Regions from separate parts of the Homo sapiens genome. Here region 1 is linked to region 2. A link means that fine-mapping ties the variant in region 2 to the expression of a gene that starts in the linked region. Tissue or cell type: gastroesophageal junction. Region 2 holds a variant in brackets; the other region holds the start of a gene. All regions are shown on one strand. Distances are from middle to middle.

Evidence for each region. PIP is the estimated chance that this variant, and not a neighbour inherited with it, causes the effect.
Region 1: it holds the start of TSHR-AS1, and the variant in region 2 is fine-mapped to the expression of TSHR-AS1 in gastroesophageal junction (GTEx, PIP 0.92).

What each region holds. Positions count from the first base shown.
Region 1 is chr14:81,168,969-81,171,730 of GRCh38, reverse strand. TSHR-AS1 (TSHR antisense RNA 1) reads left to right here and starts at 1,325. Exons shown (of 9, transcript XR_007064290.1): 1 at 1,325-1,622. LOC105370594 (a long non-coding RNA gene) reads right to left here. Exons shown (of 2, transcript XR_944073.3): 2 at 1-2,070. RefSeq lists enhancers at 951-1,320, 1,541-1,600.
Region 2 is chr14:81,250,016-81,252,777 of GRCh38, reverse strand. No RefSeq gene overlaps it. Among named protein-coding and RNA genes, the nearest start is that of GTF2A1-AS1, 30 kb to the right of the region's middle. The variant C/T (reference allele first, on the strand shown) is at 1,693.

The sequences.
Region 1 (2,762 bases), 81 kb after region 2:
GTCTAATTGTTACAGTTAGTGTTACAGTTAGCGTTGAGAGTGTTTTTCCATTTTTTTTTACTGTGATAAAATATGATTACCATTTTAGCCATGGTTAAGTGTACAGTTCAGTGGCATGAAACACATTAATGTTTAGTTTTAATAAAATATTTGTTAGCTTCATTTTTTTTTTACATTTCACATACATGAAATAAGCCAATCACAAAAAGATAAATACTACACAATTCCACTTAAATGAGGTTATCTACAGTGATCAAATTCTTAGAAACAAAAAGTAGAATGGTGGTTACTCCGGACTGGAGGAAGCAGGAAATGAGAAATTGTTCAGTGGATACAGATTGAGTATCCTCTCTGAAGATTTGTATATTTAAAATTTTTTTCTTTATCTGATTGAGTTGATTTGAAGAATCAGTTTTTGAGCTCTGAGATTCCACAGCTTGATCTATTCCTCTGTTAATGCTTCCAACACTATTATGAAAATTTTGTAGTGAATTTTTAAATTCCAGTTCAGTTTGGTTCTTTTTAAAAATGGCTATTTTGTCTTTCAATTTTTGGGTCATTTTTACTGGATTCCTTGGATTGGGTTTCTACTTCCTCTTGAATCTTGATGAGCTTCTTTGGTATCCAGATTCTGAATTCTATGTCTGTCATTCCGGACATTTCAGTCCTTGCTGAGGGGCTAGTATGCTTATTTGACGTTTTGAATTGCCAGAGTTCTTGTGCTGACTCTTTTGAGAGGGCTGGTGTTCCTTTGTCGTCTTGTTTTTATATTATTCATTTACCTTGAGGGCTTAACTGTGGTATATGTTGAGTATAGTCAATTGGCTTCATTTCTGGATACTTTCAGAGGGCCAAGGCTCTGTATGGGATCTTTGTGGCTAGATTCTTGCTCTGGGTTTTACAGGTGCTCTATACTGGCAGAATATTTTGAAATTGTAATTTCGGCGGCAAACCAGTAGATGGCGCTTAAGAGTAATTGCCGGCAGGCTCTGACTCAGCGCTGGCTCTTTGGTATTTTGTATTCGCAGTCATGCTCCATAGTTCAGGGGAGAGAGATGATCCTTTTGCCAAGTCCTCTCCTGGCCCTTAGAGGAGCCCCCTCCAATCACTGGAGCTGCACTTACGTTTCCTTTGTTAGGTGTTCGGAGCTGTGGGGGCTCTCTCCGGCAGAGGCTAAGGCTTGCAGACAGGCCGCAACCCTTCCCTGAAAGGCCCTGAGAGAGACAAGTCTCATCCCGCGCTGGCCCACGAACTGCTTCTCACTCCTCCCAGTGTTCTGAGTGGAGGCTCCTCCCCCGCGCTTGCGCACCAGCCACAGGTCTCAGCTGGGCACTCCTGAGCTCTGTGCTGCAACCTTGGGGCATTGGGCTCTGTCTTTCGGCCCCTCGGGGTCAGACCCCTGCTGTGTTGGGGGATCCGAAGTGCTCCCAAGCTGCCTGGAAAGCATTCAGGCGGGGTCGCTAGCAAGAACTCAGGCTGGGCAGCGGAGGCGGCACAGTGCACACACTCCTGCAGGAACAACCAGACAGGGGCTTTGGGAGGGGCTGCGTGCAGGGGGTCCCGCAGAACATATGCGCCCCAGTCCCGCAGGAAGGACCGCCCTGCTCTCTCTTGGCTCACTGGTAAGTTGAGGTCAGATGGGGAGCCTTGGGGGATAGGCGCCTATAGCCACCTTCCTCTGCAGCTGCCATGCACACAAAACCCCCTGGGCTCCCTGCAACCTGGAGCTCTGTCTCTGCCTACTCCCTGGGCAGATCCCCCTGCCAATTCAACTGTCTGTGGGGGTCATAGGATCTCTTATAGCTGGGATCCCAGAAATACGTGAGGAGAGTGGGCTGCCCCACTGTCACTTTACTCAACCCTTCCCTAGGAAACGTTCTGGGCCTGGAACTAGTCCTGGCACTCACCCCGCGCAGGGTTCCCAGCTTCCTTCCTCTTCAGCCTCGTGTCTGTGTGGCCGCTCTGTGGACTCAGCGTTTCACTGCGAAGATCTGCTCAGAGTGTGTTGGTTTACGGGATATTTTGGTGTCTCGGTGGGAGCAGCACTTATTGACTGCATCTGTTATTTTTCTGGGAAAAATCATCTAATCAAGATGTTTCTGGGAGCAATGTAACACAACAATTCAAACGCAAGAAGGCATCTCATCTTGAGCAAATAAATAGGAATAATGCCAAATGCTTTTTATGTCTCAGACACTACACATGTATGAATCTTTAAATAACCCAATGCACTACGCTTTAGATTTCTCCCCATTTTACAGATAGGAAAAGTGAGGTACAGAGAGATTGTAGACTTTGCCCAAAGTCACACAGCAAGTGAGTGGTGGAGTCAAGTTGGACCCAGTCTGACTTCGGAGATGACTACTTACCCATTAAGAGCAGGTTCCTCATTAAAAACGAGGATAAAGACCTTGTTAGTGTATTCAGAGTACTAAGGGGAAATAATTCAATCTAGGAACCTAGACCCAGCTAAAAATATTATTTCAGTCAGGATGAAATAAAGATATTTTAAAATAAAAACTGAAAGTGTTTATTATTTACAAGTTCTATCCAGGCAGAAAGACCTAGTAAACAATAAACTTTAGAAAAAAGATTATGGAAATTCAAAAGAGGATGAAAGAAGAAATGGAAAACAAAGAAATTGGTAAGCATGAATAGGTCAAAATATTGACTGTGAGAGAAAAATTAGAATGTTAAGTTTTAAAGGAAAGTGGAAGAAATATAATGCATAACAACATTAAATTGCTTCATGAATTGTAGAC
Region 2 (2,762 bases):
TCAATGTGCTTTCCTCTACATTACTCAACAGTGACAGCAGCAATGGCCAGCACTCTGCTTTGTGTTTTATGTGCATTACTTCATTTAATCCTTGTAATAACCCTACAAAGGAGGGTTACTAAACATTTTATACCTGTAAATATCCTCATTTTGCAGGTATATAAAAAAACAAAACTGAAGCACAGAAGGTCAGTTAATTTGCCCAACAGTCATAAAGATAATGGTGGAACTTACTGTCTTTATCTCTGCTTCTAATCTTTGTTTAAGCTCTCATCTCTGGTTTTCTGCCACCTACAGGAAGGTTGTGAGTGAGTCCATTCCATTTCAGGTGACAGTTATAACTAGTATCTTCGGAGCACTCTGTCATCTTTAGGAATAATTGCAGAGCAATATAGTAGTAATTCAATAAATGTCTCTAAGCCCCCCATGAGGTTGAAAGGGCATAGAGATAAATGAGATATGGTCCCAACCCTCTAGAAGCACCCATTCAGAAGACAGTTTTGATAGCAAATCTACCGTCAGAGCCAAGAGCAACACACTTGACCTCTTTGTTTGAGTTACAAAAGGGCACCCCACTTTCTGGCTGACAAAGCTCCACACCAGAACATAGAGAATACTGCAGGTAGATCAAGAGCTGGATTTTGCTGGGCCAAGTGGCTCATGCCTGTAATCTCAGCACTTCGGGAGGCCAAGGTTAACAGATTGCTTGAGCCTAGGAGTTCGAGACTAGCCTAAGCAACGTAGTGAAACCCCATCTCTACAAAACATACAAAAATTAGCCGGGCATGGTGGCACATGCCTGTAGTCCTAGCTACTCAGGAGGCTGAGGTGGGAGTATCCCTTTAGCCTGGGAAGTGGAGGCTGTAGTGGGCCGAGATCATGCCACTGCACTCCAGCCTGGGTGACAGAGCAAGACCCTGTCTAAAAAAAAAAAAAAAAAAAGAAAAGCTGGATTTCATCTCTGCCTTTATAAAACAGTCCTTTTATGCAGTGTGAAAACTACACAACAGTATGTGGTATCTTCAGTTCTATAGTTGGTACCCAAATTATGAGCTTGTGGAGATCTATTCTTTAAAGACGTGCATGAAAATATTAGATGCATAGAATTTATGGAAACATGAATCCATATGTTAGAAAATATGGGGCAGTGATGGAATGTTCTACTATTTCATTTTAATCCCAGTATCAATAAAGGGTAGGAAAACAGATAAGCCTGTGGGAAACAATAAAGTATTTGAGAGGAAAAAAAGAGGAGCAACAAACGGAAAACCAAAACCAGTGAAGAGGGAATGACTGAAGGCCCTATGGAGAATGAGCACTTCCTTAATCTTGAAACTTTAGGAAAACGTAATATGTCTATTGTAAGCAAGTACATACAGAAATGTTCCCAGGAATGACTTTGGGAGGCTGGGCCACATTTGCGTATTCCAGCAATGACTATTTCACCTTTGCTTATAAGGCTGCATTTGTCATGAGACCACAGTATTCTTGACCACTCTATAATATTACCCTCATCAACAAAAACAAAAATCGTTTAGGGAATTCTTTTTTTTTGAGACGGAGTCTCGCTGTGTCACCCAGGCTGGAGTGCAGTGGCGCGATCTCAGCTCACTGCAATCTCCGCCTCCTGGGTTCAAGCGATTCTTCTGCCTCAGCCTCCCAGGTAGCTGGGACTACAGGCACGTGCCACCA[C/T]GCTTGGCTAATTTTTAGTAGAGATGTGGTTTCACTATGTTGGCCAGGCTGGTCTCGAACTCCTGACACTGTGATCTGCCCACCTCGGCCTCCCAAAGTGCTGCGATTACAGGCGTGAGGCATGGCGCCCGGCCTAGGGAATTCTTAAGATTAGCAAAATAATGAGTCTAACTACTAAGCGGTACACATTAAAACTTGAAAATATTGTCTTTCTTGCCCTCAAAATGAATTACATTTAAGAAGATAATGTAGGCTGGGCGTGGTGGCTCACGCCTGTAATCCCAGAATTTTGGGAGACCGAGGCAGGTGGCTCACTTGAAGTCAGGAGTTCAAGACCAGCCTGGCCAACATGGCAAAACCCCATCTCTACTAAAAATACAAAAATTAGCCAGGCGTAGTGGCGGGCGCCTGTAATCCCAGCTACTCGGGTGGTTGAGGCAGGGAGAATTGCTTGAACCTGGGAGGCGGAGGTTGCAGTGAGCCGAGATCGCACCAGTGCACTCCCGCCTGAGCAACAGAGCGAAATTCCATCTCAAAAAAAAAAAAAAAAAAAAGAGAAGAAGATAATGTATAATACAGGGTATAGATAACAAGTGCTATAAATGGTGCTAAAATTATGGATTTTGGAAATGCAGGGAGAAATCAAATTACCTCTTACAACCAGGGGAAAGACAGAGAAAGGCTGTGCTTTCAGCTAGCTCTTAAAGGAAAGGGTACCACTTCAAAAGGCAGAGCAAGGCAGGGTGAAGAAAGGAAGTACATTCCAAGTAGAGAGAACACTATGATGTAAGTAAAGGAGGCAGAATTAAGTGTAAGTGGTGGATTTAGAGAAAATCAGTATATCTGTTTGACAAGGATAGTAGAAATAATAAAAGTGCCTAACTATGGCAGACTGTGTTCTCCCAAAATGAATGCAGTGAACAGCAATATTTTCAGTTTCACATGTTATTTATTCTATCCGCCATCAAATGGTGGGGTCTCTTTCCCATCTCTTTAATCTGGGTTATGACTGGTTTATGTCTGTTTCAACTGAGAAAGTATAGTGGAAGTGATGCTATGTGACTTCCAAG